Regions from separate parts of the Homo sapiens genome. Here region 1 is linked to region 2. A link means that fine-mapping ties the variant in region 2 to the expression of a gene that starts in the linked region. Tissue or cell type: whole blood. Region 2 holds a variant in brackets; the other region holds the start of a gene. All regions are shown on one strand. Distances are from middle to middle.

Region 1 (8,000 bases), 130 kb after region 2:
CCCTTACTTGTTGACTTTTGTACACACATACACATGGTTGGGAGTGGGGAACGCTCTTTCTCCCCACTCCCAACCCTTATTTACCTGCTGAATTCCTACTGGTTGTTTCAGGCTCAACTCAAGGGCAATCTCCTCCATGAAGCATCTCAGGGTTTCTCTGCCCTTTCTCCTGTTGGGGTGGGATGCCCCCGCCCTGGGCTGCATTACCACCTGTGTCTCTATCTCCTTCTTGCTTTCCCTGAAAGGCAATTGGTTAGTTGACTCCTCTCTTTCCCTCTTTTACTCAGCTGTACGCTCCTCCAGAGCATGGTGGGGTCTGAGTCTTGGGATTCTGAGTGTTTAGCACAGTGTGTAGCTCATGGCACATATACAACCAATGCTTGTTCAATACTAAGTCATCCCACTTCTCTGATTTGGTCAAAGGCCTGATGGATGATGTCATCTGACTTAGCAAGAGAGACAGATGATTCCCATCATGAGTGATGCAGGCCATCATTTCCCCACCTTTTCATGAACTCATTCTAGCTCACTAGGTTTACACTGGGACAAGGAGTTACCACTAATTGAGGAACTGCCACTTCTCAGACACTGGGGTGTATGCTTCACCCACATCACGGAGTATCCTCGCAATACGGCCAAGTTGACATAATGATTTATATTCATTTCACGAAGAAGTTTAAGTTCAGTTATCTTAAGCAACTGGCCTACAGTCACATAGTAGGCAGGCTTTGTTATAAAAACAGGTATAAAATGCCCTATCACATGTAGTCTTCCCTGTCCTGGAGAGATTCATTAGTTATTTGTGAAAATTACTTACAGGTCAAAAAACAAAAACTATGTTAATTTGATGCTATAATACTAAATAGTAAATTGCTAGAATAGTGAAAGTGTGGTCAGCCAGGATTTTTAGAGGCTCCAAGGCAGTTCTACCATATGCATCTATCCAGGGCAAATCATGCCTGCAGTCCTTATCAGACAGATGGAGATTATAATATCTACTTATCTCAAAGGGGGTTGAGTATCACATAAGATCATAGTTGCCAAAGTGCTTTGTGAAGGAAGAGGACAGAGGCTCATTTTAGAGTAGTGTGCTGGACAGTCTGTGGGAGACCCTAGGGATCAGAGCTACCTGAGATGTTGCTTAACAGCAGATGAAGGAAGCTTGACCGGGAATCCACACTTATTTTAACAAGCCCCCAAATGATTCTCTGGGACACTAAAGTTTGAGAAATAACAGGTTACAGCATTGCTTCTCAAATGTTAACATACTCATGGAGATCTTGTTAAAATGGAGATTTGAATTCACTGGGTCTGGAAGAGAGTAGCAGGCACGCTAAGATTTTGCATTTCTAATAAGCTCCCAGGGGAGGCCACATGCTACTGGTCCATGGACCACGTTTGAGTGACAGGGGCTTGGAAGATCTATCCCCACTGGAACAAATTAGATTTGTTTTGTTTCTGGTTGCACCCCCCAACTTCAGAGAGTGTTTTCCATAAAGCCCAGGGTCTTAGTATTGGTACAAAATTATTTGAACTACTCAAAACCAAATTGAAATACACTTCCTATCACAGGCAAAGCAGCAGCATTCTTTTTAGATACGGATAGCATATGTTTAGCATGTGAAAAAATAATTTATTACTACTGAGTGAGTCCTATTTAAAAGCGTGCAAAGCATTTTATATACATTATCTCTAATCTCCACCCTGCCCCTAAAAAGGTGGATATTCCTGTTCTGTAGATAAGGAAATGGTGACTTAAGTAACTTGGTCAAGGTCACACGGCTAGTTAGGTGTTACCGCAGGGATTCTGATTTTGCTCCATCAGGATCCAAAGCCCATGAGTCCTCCATACTCCCTCAGAGTGTTAGATATGATTGTGATACGAAATGTATCAGCTTGGGAATCAAGAAAAAAGCGGGGGAAAAGTGTTTTTTGAGTTTAAAGTTCTGCTGAGGCAGATTGCGAATGGTGGTGGGGTTGGGGGATAAGATTCATTAGTGATCTATGTTGCCTCATGGACAAAACATGCAGATAGCATCCTTATTAATGGTTCCCATAAATCTAGTAATGCAGATGGAAAAAAAGGACACTAGTGACCAGCGTGCTGATTATAAACACTGCCACCTACCCTCAGGCTCAACCAACGAAGAGGAAAAATTCATCCTGACACTTGGGGCCTGTTAACTTCCTCCCTCTCTCGCATGAGGTTTCTATAATCTTAAAAGTTCATACCAAACATAGGTTTATCCTTCTACGTTATGGCATAACTACCAGACCTCCATACCGCTAATGCTGCTTGCACCTGAAAAAAATGTACTATTTAGTCAAATACCTTGAAAACGTACTGATTTTGAAGGCTCTGAGTAACAAAATTTTCTATACTTTTCGTGAGATTGATCTTTATGCACTGCGGTAAAGATGCGTAGAGAAAGCAGTCAGATAGTTACTCAGGTGTTCCAAATGGGGGAAAATAGTTACAAAATAAACCACCCAGGCAATTACCATCCAGTATCTTTAGCACTCAATGATCCACGGGTGGAGGATACAGGGTTAACGTTTTTTAACATCAGGTCTCTCCACAAATAGCCCGCTGTAGCTTAACTGTTACGTTTTCTAAAGATTCATCTTTATAAACAGTACAATTATTTCCCTTTGTAATACAAACAGAAACAATTAGAAAGCAACATCTCCTGCAATTAAGATGTATGTACAGTATTAGTATAAAACCAAAGAGTGATATTTGAGCTATTCAGGATTATAAATTGATTTTGTCCCTGTGGTATTCTCTACAAAGGGTGTTTCAAAAATAAAGACTGAAATCTAAAAATATATCTTTGGTTTGAAAACTTACTTAAAAGCATTTTTAGAGAGTGTGTGTTTTAAACAGGGGGTATGAAATTGCATCGGGAGCCTAGATTTCAAACTAAGCATTTCTTATTTCACTCCCTAACCACAGAACAGTTCAGATCTCAGATTCAAACCAGAGGGCCACAGAAACCAATTTGAGATTTTCCGAAGAGACTTCACTGAAACGTATGGACAAAAACATGTTTGCGATGAGTCATATTTTATAGGACCTTAATGGCCAATAAATGCCTTATGTGTCTTTCTTCCTACATTCAGTATCACTCCCAAGCAAGCTGGTGACATATTTTCCAGGCCTTGATAATTTTTATACCGTTACCAGATCTCGGTTACTAAGATTCATGAACAAAACCCTTTCTTGCGCTAATTTTTTAATGCCATCTAAATGAAGAGAACGCGATTCTTTCCAAACTAACTCTCCCCAACCAGGCAGTTAATGCCCTTCGCCAGAATAAGGGCGCGATACTTTTAAGACCCCAAAGAGAAGCTCAGGTGCTTTGGGGGTACTACAAGTAAAAAGACAGTGGGAAAGGTTCCTGGAGAGCCGCTTTGGGGGAAAGGCAGACATAACAACAGGATATGTTCGTTTCTAGAGGAAGCAGGAGCTGCAATAGCCCCGGAGCAGGAAAGGCGGAGTCAGCAGCGCCCAAAGGAAACGGGCGCGCCAGGGTTTGCTGGAACCGGGGTTGCTTAGGGGTTCTCGCCCCGTCTAGTCCGAGACTGCTGAGCACCTCGCCCCCGGGGGACCAAGCTCAGGCCTCCTGGCACTAGTGGTTATAAAGAGGTACCCATATGCTCTCTGCCGCCCCTGCCAAAAAAAGGGCCACGGAGGGGAAGAGAAAAAGCACACACCAGGCGCCGCGGCAGGTGAACTTGTCAACAAGTCAACCCTGGACGCAAGTCCCTGCCCACCAGGGAGCTCGGGGTCCTGGGGCCGGAGCCGCCGGGAAGGCGAGGCGCGCGGTGGGTGGGTGGGGTGGGCTGGCATGGGTGCCGGTGCTCCCAGCGCTGGGGCCGGAGCGCGGAACGCTTCCCTACCGCTCCCCCGGGGCTGACGCACGCTCTCACGGCGCGCGCATCCTCCAGACCTTCCCAGGCCGGAGGGAGGAGGGGAGGGGAAGGGGCTGATGCGGTTCCCGCACCGGGATCCGGGACCCGAGGAGGCGACTCGCCTATCACGCGCCGCCCGCGGAGGGCAGAGAAGGCAGCTCCTACCAGGCGTCCCCGACCGTCCCGGCTGCCGGGCGTCTCCTGCTGCTTCCTGCAGCCCGCCCGGCGCGCCCCCGCCCCGACCCCGGAGGGCAGGTACCTCGGAGCCCCGGCCCCCAGGAGCCTCCCGGCCGCGGTCGGAGCGTCCCTCCGGATCACTCATCCGACGTCAGCGTCAGCCGAAGGCGAGGGAAAGGGGCGGGGGGAGCGCAGGAACCGGCCCTTCCTGCGGCGGCCGCCACCAGCCGGAATAGCAACCGGCGGAGCCCGTGCGCACCGCAGCGCAGCGCAGCGGCCGGGGGGTGCGGGCGCCCTCGCCGCCCGGCTACCTACCGCCGCCTGGGCGCCGCCGCTGCCTCCCTTCCCCGCTTCTACCCTCCAGCAGACGCCCGCCGGAGCGACCCCTCCCAGGGTGACCGGGGGAAGGTGGGTGGCGTTGACCTCACCTTGCTTGGGGAGGGTCGGGGACTCGGGGAGTGAGTTTCTCTCTCTCTACTCCCCGGGGTCTCTCCTCGACCCCCATCTCCTGGGGTATCCCCCGCTCGGATCCGCCGCCCAGAGTGACCCCGCCCCTGCTCTCCGGCAGGTGTTCCACGTGGCCATAGCGTTTGCGTCACAATGACCTGGCGGACAGGTGGGAGCCACAGCGTACACCCCAGGGTTCCCTCTGTGCTGTGCGTAGTGCCTACTGCTTGCTTCCAGGTTAAATTTCTGTAGCTTTAGAGGACAGGAGACTTCATGACTTCACTGCCAAGAAAAGTTACAGAGGCCTGCTGTACCTGGAAATCAAGTTTGAGCTTCGAGAATAAAGGTCATGTTTTAAAAACAGCTGTGTATGTATAGGTATATGTTTTTCATTTCCATATATTTCTGTATCTTTTATTTTTAAGTTATTGCCATTTGTAGCAGTTTCATCTTCTCTTATCCTTTGTCACCAGGAAAGAACCAAACCATTGTTTCTAGAGACCCTGCAGTATACAGATCACAGGAAGAAAAAGTGTTGGCATAGCTGCTTCCTAATATTATCTATGTGGAAATGAAACCTCAATGTAGTATGACTTCATCCCTAGTTATGTTATACATTTATAAATAAGTTCATTCAGTCGTCGCTGAAACAATTTAAAAGGGCCGAATGATAGTTATTGAGTAATGATGCTGACGAATCAGAAATCCTGCGCTAACATGGATGGAGTGCTAGCTCTATGTCCGGCACATGCTGTATGCTTTATATTTAATCCTTACAGCAACCCAATACTGTAGATAAAATCATTATCCCGATTTCACAGATGAAGACACTGCCCAGAGTGCCATAAAGAGATTATTGAGCAGGGATTTGAATCTGAACCAGGAGACTTAGCTTAATCTCAAGATAGCATGGTGTCTTGCCAGAATGGATGGAGAAAAAGTATAGAATATGTTGACATTTTAATAGAAAGATAATAAGATACCTCCAGAAATTTACATAACCTTTAAAGTTATTCTTTGGGGATTCTGTTTGTCATAGATTTGAGCCTGTCCTAGTCTTAACACGAATTTTGGAGCTGAGTAAACATCTCCTTAGTAAGTGTGTATGAGTAAACAAATCATGAATATGGTCTACAAAATAGCAAATTGTTGAAAAGCTAAGATTCAGGAGAAATTTTCAGAGAGAAAAGCATTGCTTATATATATTTGGCTTTTATAAAAAAAAATTCAAACTAACGTGTTAACAACGCAAGCCAAATGATTTTGCTGTAAGAAAAAAAACCCAAAGCCTTTAAAATGAGAAAGTCTTCCTTACAAAAGAAAGATGATTAAGATATGTTAAGATACATTGATTCCAAGAACTGTAAATTTATGTGTAAAAAGCTATTATCGGGAGTTAAAAGGATAAAGAGATTATTATTCTTTAACAGAATGAAGTGCCGTAATGAACATCATAGGTGCCCGATAAATGTTGACTGAGCGTTATCATCAGTTAATTGAAGCATTGAGAAAGGACTAAATCACCTGAAAAGTTTTTCCTGACTCTGTAATGTTCTCCTTTCTACCAGTTACATGAAAACTTAATCAGAAGCCCCATTGGTCAAAGGCTGGCTTTGGGGCAAATATTTAAATCTGTTACAAAACAGCCAGTAGAATGGGAGGTTGTGTGTGTGTTCAAAGTATCCCCTCAAAATGCAGATGATTGGAACAAAAGCATGAAGGGAAAAAACGGGGACAGCTGAGCTGCAACTGATTACGCAGTTTTCTTTTATGCTTTCTGAATTCCAAGGTGAAAACGATGACTGTGAGTCTAACCTGTTACAGAGGCTAAAAGTGGCTTCAAAAGCAATGTCTAAAAGAGAACAAATACATGATACAAGCATTATGTAGTCAACATGGCACTGAAATTCTTTGGGCTCCCGGAGAGTTTAGGAGAAAACCTTAACTGATTTTTCTTCATTCTAATTATTGTCCTAACACTTAGCATAATATTTGAGAAAGGAAATAATAGACAACTCCTGCTCATTCTCCATCACCACAATGAGTACTTTTCCTTCCCCTTAAATAAAATGGCTCCATCAATAACACTTGCATTTGTTTCTGAATAACCAGCTGTTGTTTCCATCTTGCAGAACACCAGTAAGGTGCTAGTGAGAACCCGAAACAGTTTCTAAGGAGAATGGCTATTGAATGATGGGATCAGAAATTAGGAGAGAAATAAGGTGCGTTTTCCAGTGTACAACAGGATGACAAAATTTTCTATGAAAAAAATCTTTACATATTCAATTCAATAATTTTTTCAAGAGCTTCCCAGATTCAAGATATGCTAATAGGACCACAAGAGTTGGATTTGTGTTAAGCTACTAACAGAGACTTGGAATAGCGGTGGATTAAATGAAATAGGGCTTTATTTTTTCTCACTTAAATTGGAAGGTAGGCAGTCTAGGGCTGGTGCGATCTCCACTGTGTCACTGGGCTGTTGCCCTTCTGTCATTCTATTCTGCCATCCTAGGCAAAGCAAGATTGCCCAAAGGTAAACCCAGGCGAGGATGTAAATTGGTGGTGGAAACTGCTGGTGGGAAAGTAAAATGGTGCAACCACTTTGGAAAACAGTCTGAAAGTTCCTTAAACGATTAAACATAGAGCTACCATGTGACCCAACAATTCCACTCCTAGGTCTATATCCAAGAGAAATAAAAACCTATGTCTACACAAAAACTTGTACACAAATGTCTATAGCAGCATTATTCAAAACAGTCAAAAGGTCAAAGCTGTCCTGCTGTAGACAAATGAATAAACAAAATGTAGTATATTCATGTAATGGAATATTCAGCCATGCAAATGAATGAAATACTGACATATGCTACAACTTAGACAAAACTTGAAACATTATGCTGAGTGAAGGAAGCCAGTCACAAATATATTATTCCATTCATATGAAAGTCCAAAATAGAGAAATCTGTACAGGCAGAAAGTACAATAGTGATCATTTAGGGCTGGAGAGAGTATGGGTGAATAGGGAGTGAGATCTAAAGAGTATAGAGTTTCTTTATCTTCTTTTTTTCTTTTTTCTTTTTTCTTTTTTTTTGAGACAGAGTCTTGCTCTGTCCTGCAGCATGGAGTGCAGTGGCACAATCTCGGCTCACTGCAACCTTCGCCTCCCGGGTTCAAGTGATTCTCCCGCCTCAGCCTCCTGAGTAACTGGGATTACAGGCATGCACCACCATGCCCAGCTAAGTTTGGTATTTTTTGTTTGGTTGGTTTTTTTTTTTTTTTTTTTGAGACAGAGTCACACTCTGTTGCATAGACTGGAGTGCAGTGGCACGATCTCAGCTCACTGCAGCCCCCATCTCCTGGGTTCAAGGGATTCTCCTGCCTCAATCTCCTGAGTAGCTGGGACTACAGGCATGTGCCACCATGCGCAGCTAATTTTTGTATTTTTAGTAGAGACAGGGTTTTGC
Region 2 (8,000 bases):
AACCAGAAGAGTGGATCTAGTGGGGGGTCCTCAGGGGAGAGGTGGATCAGGATAGAAAGGGAGCAGAAATGCAAGATAAAACTTAGTGTGCAAAAAGAGTGAAGAAGCCCCGTGCAATGTCAGTCAGCACCCAGGAAGAGGGCATGCTTATGGGAACGTGGTGAACTCAGGGCGGAGTGGCCAAGTCAACGGGGCCTTGACCATGAAAGCAGTTTGATCCTCTCAAGTATGCCACAAGAAGTCTAAAATCAAAGGATGACAATATGATTTAGAACCACTCATCTAACCTTTGATGCTAACACAGGGGAGAATTATGAAAAGGAATGTATTTTAAACCCTGAAACATAAAGTTGGAATGTGATTCTGAGTCTCCAGTTAAAAAGTCAATAAAAATAGAGAAAACATTAAAAAAGACAAAGAAGGAAGAAATATGCTTTTGGATTGAAAACAAAAAGAATGAACAAACAAAAAACCCCATTTCAATCCCCACCTTACCTACCTTGTAGCGAGGCCTGTAAGTCTTTCATATTTTGGTCTAAAAGCTGCGAAGGAAGGAAACCTGAGCCTGTCTGGGCCTTGGGGTCTGGCTCTCCCAGGGCCATAGTGGGCACTGGCTCCTTCACTTGGCCGTCTCCAAACACAGCGGCCCACTCTTTGCTGAACTCGCCCTCTTCCAAGGAGGAAGCATTGAAGATCTCACTCAACAGCAGCAGGTCATCTTTGTCAGCACCTTCAGGTTCCGGGGTCCCTGCCACTGGTCCCAGGCAAGCTGATTGAAGTAACAGAGAACAAAACGTCACCACGGAGGGCTCAAGCCCTCAGGAATCAATGCTGTGGGGGCTGCGAAGGGGGAGACTGGTTGATGGCTAGATTTAAGAAAAATGTCATCAAAATATAAGTTCATCCTATTATTATAGCCTCTCTTAAGAGTTTATAGAATTAAATTTCGAATCCCATGTTCCCTTGTCCCCTGTCCTCCAAAGCAAGTTCAGTTTCTGGGCATCAGACTCTAGGATTTTGGTTTTTCTTTAATATAAAAACAAATTTACCAAAACATTTCTCAGATATGAAACAAGGCCAAGATTGAAAACATGTTGGAGATCTTAGTTCCTTGTTTGCATAGCTTCCCAAATCTTCCCACGCAAGCCCTCAATACACATTGCCTGGGCTGGAACAGCAACACGCCATGTGGCAGCCTGTCCTGCCACCCAGGATGGGGAGAGAACTTTCACCATGCCCTGGCCCAGGGCACGACAGTGAAGGGGAGGATGTCCAGAGCTCAACAATGCCCAAGAGAGGCATCCTTACTTCCTTCCCACTTTGCTGAAACTCCATTGCATGAAGCAAAGGAAAAGTGGGTCTGGTTTGCCTAAGTGCCTTTTGCAGCAATAAAATAAAAGGGAAAGAGGCTGCGAGTCAGGGAGCTTCACAGGCTAGAGACACAGTTCGAGGGGCGTTGAAGTGAGCACCGGATCAGAGGGGAAGCCTCAGGTCCACCCCTTCGCTGCTATGTGACTTCGGTAAAAACCCTTAGACCCCCTTGAGCCTCTGTTTGCTCATCCACAAGGTTATCATGTTAATAACGGCCACCTCGGTGTTGTCAGGAAGACCAAAAGAAATACACTTTAAACCTAATTGCCTTTCCAGAAGGAAGGCTTTAAAGAAGGCAGCCATCCTTACATTACGAACATTGGCAGAATACTGAATATTGAATACAAGTAGCATTACTATCAGAAATCTTACACCAAGTCCTTTCACTGGGTTTATTACTTATTTTGAGAACCAAAGACTGATGGTGTTATCAACTGTGGCTTTGTGGTGGTATCTAACTGCCACTTGGAAACTATAAACATTTTTGTTGTTAATTCACAAAGAGAAGAAAAAAATCATGATTTATGTTTTTTTTCTGAGACATGCTGCAATTCTGATATGGTCATATTAAATGAGATGACCAGGTTTTCTTCAAATGTATAAGATAATTAGTAAGTAAAGGCTTTTTTTTTAAAAAAAAAAAAGTTCTCTGTGTTGGCTTTACTGGATCTATTTTCAATCACACTTTACATAAAGATCTAAAGATGAAGGGGATTTCTGATGTGCTGAGCAGACAGGCTATAAATCAGGGAGGGGAAGAATCTAGTCACTCTCATGTCCCTGTGGTTTAAAAATAGTGGCAAAACATCACTTTAGTCGGACAACTGTCTAATGTAAGCATTCTTATTGTTTGTGTTATCACAGAAATTCTCACTAAGAGCTAGCCTGTAGGTGTTGTGGGTGAGAAGATGGGGCAAATGGCATTTTAAACAGGCTTCTGAGACAGTGTGATTTTTTTTAAAATTATTATTATTATACTTTAAGTTTTAGGGTAAATGTGCACAACGTGCAGGTTTGTTACATATGTATACATGTGCCATGCTGGTGTGTTGCACCCATTAACTCGTCATTTAACATTAGGTATATCTCCTAATGGTATCCCTCCCCCCTCCCCCCACCCCACAACAGTCCCCGGTGTGTGATGTTCCCCTTCCTGTGTCCATGTGTTCTCATTGTTCAATTCCCACCTACGAGATAGAATATGCGGTATTTGGTTTTTTGTCCTTGGCGATAGTTTGCTGAGAATGATGGTTTCCAGCTTCATCCATGTCCCTACAAAGGACATGAACTCATCCTTTTTTATGGCTGCATAGTATTCCATGGTGTATATGTGCCACATTTTCTTAATCCAGTCTATCATTGTTGGACATTTGGGTTGGTTCCAAGTCTTTGCTGCTAGTGCCGCAATAAACATACGTGGGCATGTGTCTTTATAGCAGCATGATTTATAATCCTTTGGGTCTATACCCAGTAATGGGATGGCTGGGTCGAATGGTATTTCGACAGTGTGATATTAACAGGGTAGTTCAGGAACCACTTGAGCCTGCACATGGTGGGCGAGGCAGGACTGTAAGGTCAGGCAGGTGGCCCACCTCTGTGGATGAAGGCAGGAGCTGAAGGAAAGGAAAGCAACCTTCGCAGCTCAGGATGTGTCCATCAACACCTGTATCTACGCATGCTCCCCTCTCCAGCATCACCTTTTTAAGGATTATTAACATTACAGAACTCTATACTTCCTACTTTCAGGTAGGACTGGAATGCCCAAACCCTTTCTTATAGTTTACTTTTTGCCCTGACTGAAACCAGATAATTACTGAACCAAACCTATTCTATTGAAACCAAGTCAAGTCAATGTGTAGACCCTGGAGGAGCAGATAATTTCAAATGCACCTTGGAAATGACGTATGTTCCTTCTACAGTCGCTTTATACAGCCCTCCACTAAGTCAAACCCTCAGGGAGGCTTCACTACTTTAGTACAGATGTCTGTCCAGGGAAGATCATCATTAACATTAGCAAGAACAAATAATAAACTGTAAGCCTTCTAAAAATAACCACAGACTGTAATAGCTCCATCTTTGTTTTTATTGTTTAGGTTTTGTGCTATGGTGTTTATAATGGACTTTGGTGGTTTTTGCTAACTCAGCATCCCTTCCCTCTGCTTCTTCAGTTTTCCCTTTGGGAAAATGCCTTCTCCATGTGATCCTGGTGAGATGCCTCTGGAAATGACTCCTTACCCTCCACCCCAGTGAATGACTGATGAGGCTGGCCAGAGTCCTCCATCCCCCAGGCATGGTGATTGGCTCAGGGGTGGACACATGCCGGACACCTCCCGGAATTTGGTATATAGAAACTTAATGGAAGAGGGCCTCTCTTTCTTTGGGATTCCAAGCTCTAAAGATGCAAATTTCAGGCTCCCAGTGATAATGAAGTCAACACATAGAGGGAAACAGCCTCAAGAAGTGGAGAGAGAATCCTGACAACATTGTCTAAGCGCCTGGATCCAGCCTTGCTTGAAGCCAATCCACAACTGAGTGTCCCCATTACATGGATCAATACATTCTTTTTTGCTTTTAAAAATTTAAACCTAAACTATTTCAAATAGGGTTTTTCTATCACTTGCAATCAGAAAACTTTTTACTAATACATATCCTATTCAACTCAAACTTTTTAGTGACAGAAAAGAGAAAAGGACCCTTGGTGAGGATATTGCCTACAGCCAGTTCTAAATACAGATTTTGCCTACACTGAGGTCTACCAATGAATTTAGCCTTTTATTTGGCTTCTTGATTATTCAACAGCTAACAGGCCACACAGTGCACATTTTCTCTTTTAAGAGAACTTACTACTTAGCTAAAAGCAATGAAACTGGCACTGACTTGAACCATAAAACACAAAAACCTCCCAATTATTGCACTGATAATTAAGATGCTTAAAATTATTACACATAACACGTAAGAAAAATCTAACTACAAGTAGAAAAGGACGGGTTCAGGTCTGTAACCAGACAAGTTGAGACTTGAGAAATAGCTCTATAGTCAGTTGGCTCTTGAGAATCATGCTATCATTTTCTTTGAAAAAAATTCAACTCAACTGAGAGATAATGGAGACACATGCAGAGATGTGATAAGCTCTTTGGGAGAAACTCTAGTAAGAAACTCCCAACTGGAGTCAGGGCTTCCACCCATGCAGATGTGGA[C/T]TGCTTCTGGGTTATGGTGCCCCAATCCTGCTTTTGTGTTAAAGGATGAACAAGGGTTGAGGATCTCTCAGGTGCCAAACCCACAGATGCTACACCAAGTTCCCTTCACTCTCTTGCAGGCTCCCAAGTCTCTGTGTTTACTTGCTTACCAGATAACCTAACTACAGACACTGCTGCAAAAATAAGAGCCAACAGACATGACGTACTCACATCCTCACCTGTCTCCAACTCCGTGACCTTGCAGGCATTGCCTCTCCTTTCTAAGATAAGCCCTCTCTATGCCCTCCCCTCCTTCCTGAAGCCTGCTCTGTTCCCACCATTATTCAGATCCAGCACCTTTAGTCTTTCATTTTCCAATGCTTCCTTCCCCTAGCCGCAGGAGATGTGTGCCTATCTCAACAATAATCAGCCTTCACTTGATGTTGCTCTCCACCCTCCCCTCACACTTTCAAGTTACTGTTCTGGTTTCTTCTTCCTTCCACAACCACATACTCTACTTTGGCTCTACTCTTTTCTCAGCTGCCTGTAATTAAGTTCCTGCCCCCACCCTATACTGAAATAGCTCTCTTGAAGGTCAGCAGTGAGATCCTCATTGCCAGTTCTGAGGCTCTTTTCCCAGGCCTTTACCTGTACAGCATCATTTGTACCACTGCCCAGCCTGGAAATGCTGCTATCTCCTGGGAGTCCCCATGAGGCGGCTCTCTCGGATGACCTCCCATCTCCCTGACAGTACCTTCTCCACTGCCTCCTCCTATTCTGGCTGCCCTTAAGGTTTCATCCCAAACCATCATACCTTCCCTACATTCTCTATAGAAGATCTTTTCTATTCTTAGGGTTCCAATGTCACCTCAGAAGGTTCTCCAATCTCTACCTCCAATTCCAAGTTCTTTCTGGAACTCCATTTGCAAATTCCTGTCTGGGAGCCCTTCTGGGTTTGCCCATTGGTGAAGCTGCTGGTGCTCCATAGAGGAACCCTCTTACTGTGTATCTTTGCTTAGTCTGTGTTATGGTTTGCATATCTGTCCCTTCCAAAACTCATGCTGATATTTAAACCCTAGTGCGGCAGCTTGAGAGGTGCGGCCTTTAAGAGGTGATTGGGTCATGAGGGCTCTGCCCTCACAAATGGGTTAACCCATTCATGGATTAATGAATTAATGGATTATCATGGGAGTGGGATTGGTAGCTTCTATAAGAAGAGGAACAGAGACCTGAGGGAGCACATTCGGCCCCCTCACTATGTGATGCCCTAAGCCGCCTTAGGACTCAGCAAAAAAGGCCCTCACCAGATGTGTCCCCTCAGAATTGGACATTTTAGCCCCTATAACTCTAAGAAATAAATTCCATTTCTTTCTTTTCTTTTCTTGTTTTTTCTTTATAGAGTCTCACTCTGTCATCCAGGCTGGAGTGCAGTGGTGCAACCATAGCACTCCAGGCTTGAATGCCTTCTGAGTAGCTGGGACTACAGGCACATGCCACCATGCCTGGCTAACTTTTAAAACTTTTGTAGAGATAGGGTTTTACTTTGTTGCCCTCTTGGTCTCAAGTGATCCTCCTGCCTTGATCTCCCAAAGTGCTAGGATTACAGGCATGAGCCCTTTTCCTTATAAATTATCCAGGTGCCAGTATTCTGTTTTATAAGCAACAGAAAGCAAAGTTAGACAGGCTGGCTGTGAGATTACTCATTTACTCAAAGGCCTTCAGTGGCTCCCTGACTACTGGCTAAAGTAACACTCTGTCTAGTGGTATTCAGGATGTCTGCAGTCAAGCACGAATGCAGCCCTTTCAGCTACCCATCAATATAGCCATCTGGAAAGCCTTCATTCAATTTGGCAAAACTTCTCTACTTGCCATTGCTCAAACATATTCTGGGAACCTGATGATTTGTCCCAGTGAGAAAAATCATACTTTTTTTTTTTTTTTTTTTTGCAACCAATAGGAATCTTAGAGATCATCTCCTCTAACTCACTTTACAGATAAGGAAAAAGACCCAGGTTAAATAACCTACCCAATGACACAAAATTTATTAGTTACAGACAATCTTGCTAGGGACCCCAACTCACAGTCAAGGTGTTTTCTCACTGTAGCACTCTGCTTTTACTTCAGAACCTATTAAGGATCTCATGTATAAATTAATATTTAAGCTTTTGTAAAGTGTTGAGGGTTTCTAAGGTCAGATGGCTCCACTGGCAGCCAGGCACCATGCAGGCACCGTGGCAGAAAGGCTGAGATGACAGATCCATTCAGCATGTTTGCCCTGTACTGCCCAAGTTTTCAAAAATAAAAACCCTATGCCCCTGGGAGAACATTCCCTAGGAGAACTGATCCTGAACCAATGAGCAATATCTGTGTGAAAACTCACATAGAGAGGAAGCTCTTTTAAGTTTAGACACGGTGTGGGAAATTGGTGACAGCTCACTCAGGTGGTATTTTTGAACTCATACTGAGTTTCATGACCTCAGCATAAATTAGAACACAGAAGATGGAAGGAAACATAACTACATAGACCGAAAACGAGAGCACAGAAAAGCTGGCAGATAAATGTCACTTAATTTACCTTCATCTGCGTGTGAAACAGGAAGACTCCATCTCTCTGGTTTTCTCCCTCGTCCCCACTCTGGACATTATGACTAATCGTAAAGGCCACACGCTTGCAGTACAGATGAAAAACCCCAAACACCAACACTATCCTCACATCGCCCAAAGAGAGTAGGGGGAAGATAGGGAGGAAAACACCTTACGAAAATGGCTAACAAGAAAAACATATTCTATATTATAACAAACTGTACTTGTTTGGAACTCAAGAACACTGCTTCTAAGAACTTCGCTCTGATGAAAAATGATATAGATTATAATAAGAACAGAGAGAGGAAAAACAACTCCTACTCCCTGAAAAACAAAACAAAACAAAAAACAAACAACAAACCAACAGCACTGGACCCTGAGTAGGCACTAAAAAAAAAAAATTCTTGTTCATGATCCCTAAGCTTGCTACTCCATTTCACCAGTAGATGTTAGAAGACAAGTAATCTTACTGAAAAACATAAAACCTAGGGCAGGGATAAATATTTATAGACTCTTTATAGAATTTTTTTTATTTTTTTTTGAGACAGAGTGTTACTCTGTTGCCTAGACTGGAGTGCAGTGGTGCAATCTCGGTTCACTGCAACCTCCGCCTCCCGGGTTCAAGCGATTCTTCTGCCTCAGCCTCCAGAGTAGCTGGGATTACAGATGCCCATCACCAGGCCTGGCTAATTTTTGGATTTTTAGTAGAGACAGGGTTTCATTATGTTGGCAAGGCTGGTCTCGAACTCTTGACCTCAAGTGATCCGCCCATCTTGTCCTCCCAAAGTGCTGGGATTACAAGTGTGAGCCACCGCGCCCGGCCAGAATCTTTATAGAAATCTTTATAAGGGTAAATCTATAGAGAGCACT

Evidence for each region. PIP is the estimated chance that this variant, and not a neighbour inherited with it, causes the effect.
Region 1: ICA1 starts here. The variant in region 2 is fine-mapped to the expression of ICA1 in whole blood (TOPMed, PIP above 0.99).

What each region holds. Positions count from the first base shown.
Region 1 is chr7:8,257,920-8,265,919 of GRCh38, forward strand. ICA1 (islet cell autoantigen 1) reads right to left here and starts at 4,248. Exons shown (of 14, transcript NM_001136020.3): 1 at 4,175-4,248. ICA1-AS1 (ICA1 antisense RNA 1) reads left to right here and starts at 4,306. Exons shown (of 6, transcript NR_125740.1): 1 at 4,306-4,500; 2 at 4,661-4,907; 3 at 6,672-6,761.
Region 2 is chr7:8,127,374-8,135,373 of GRCh38, forward strand. ICA1 (islet cell autoantigen 1) reads right to left here. Exons shown (of 14, transcript NM_001136020.3): 13 at 500-769. Among named protein-coding and RNA genes, the nearest start is that of ICA1, 130 kb to the right of the region's middle. RefSeq lists a silencer at 6,291-6,340 and an enhancer at 7,051-7,180. The variant C/T (reference allele first, on the strand shown) is at 4,569.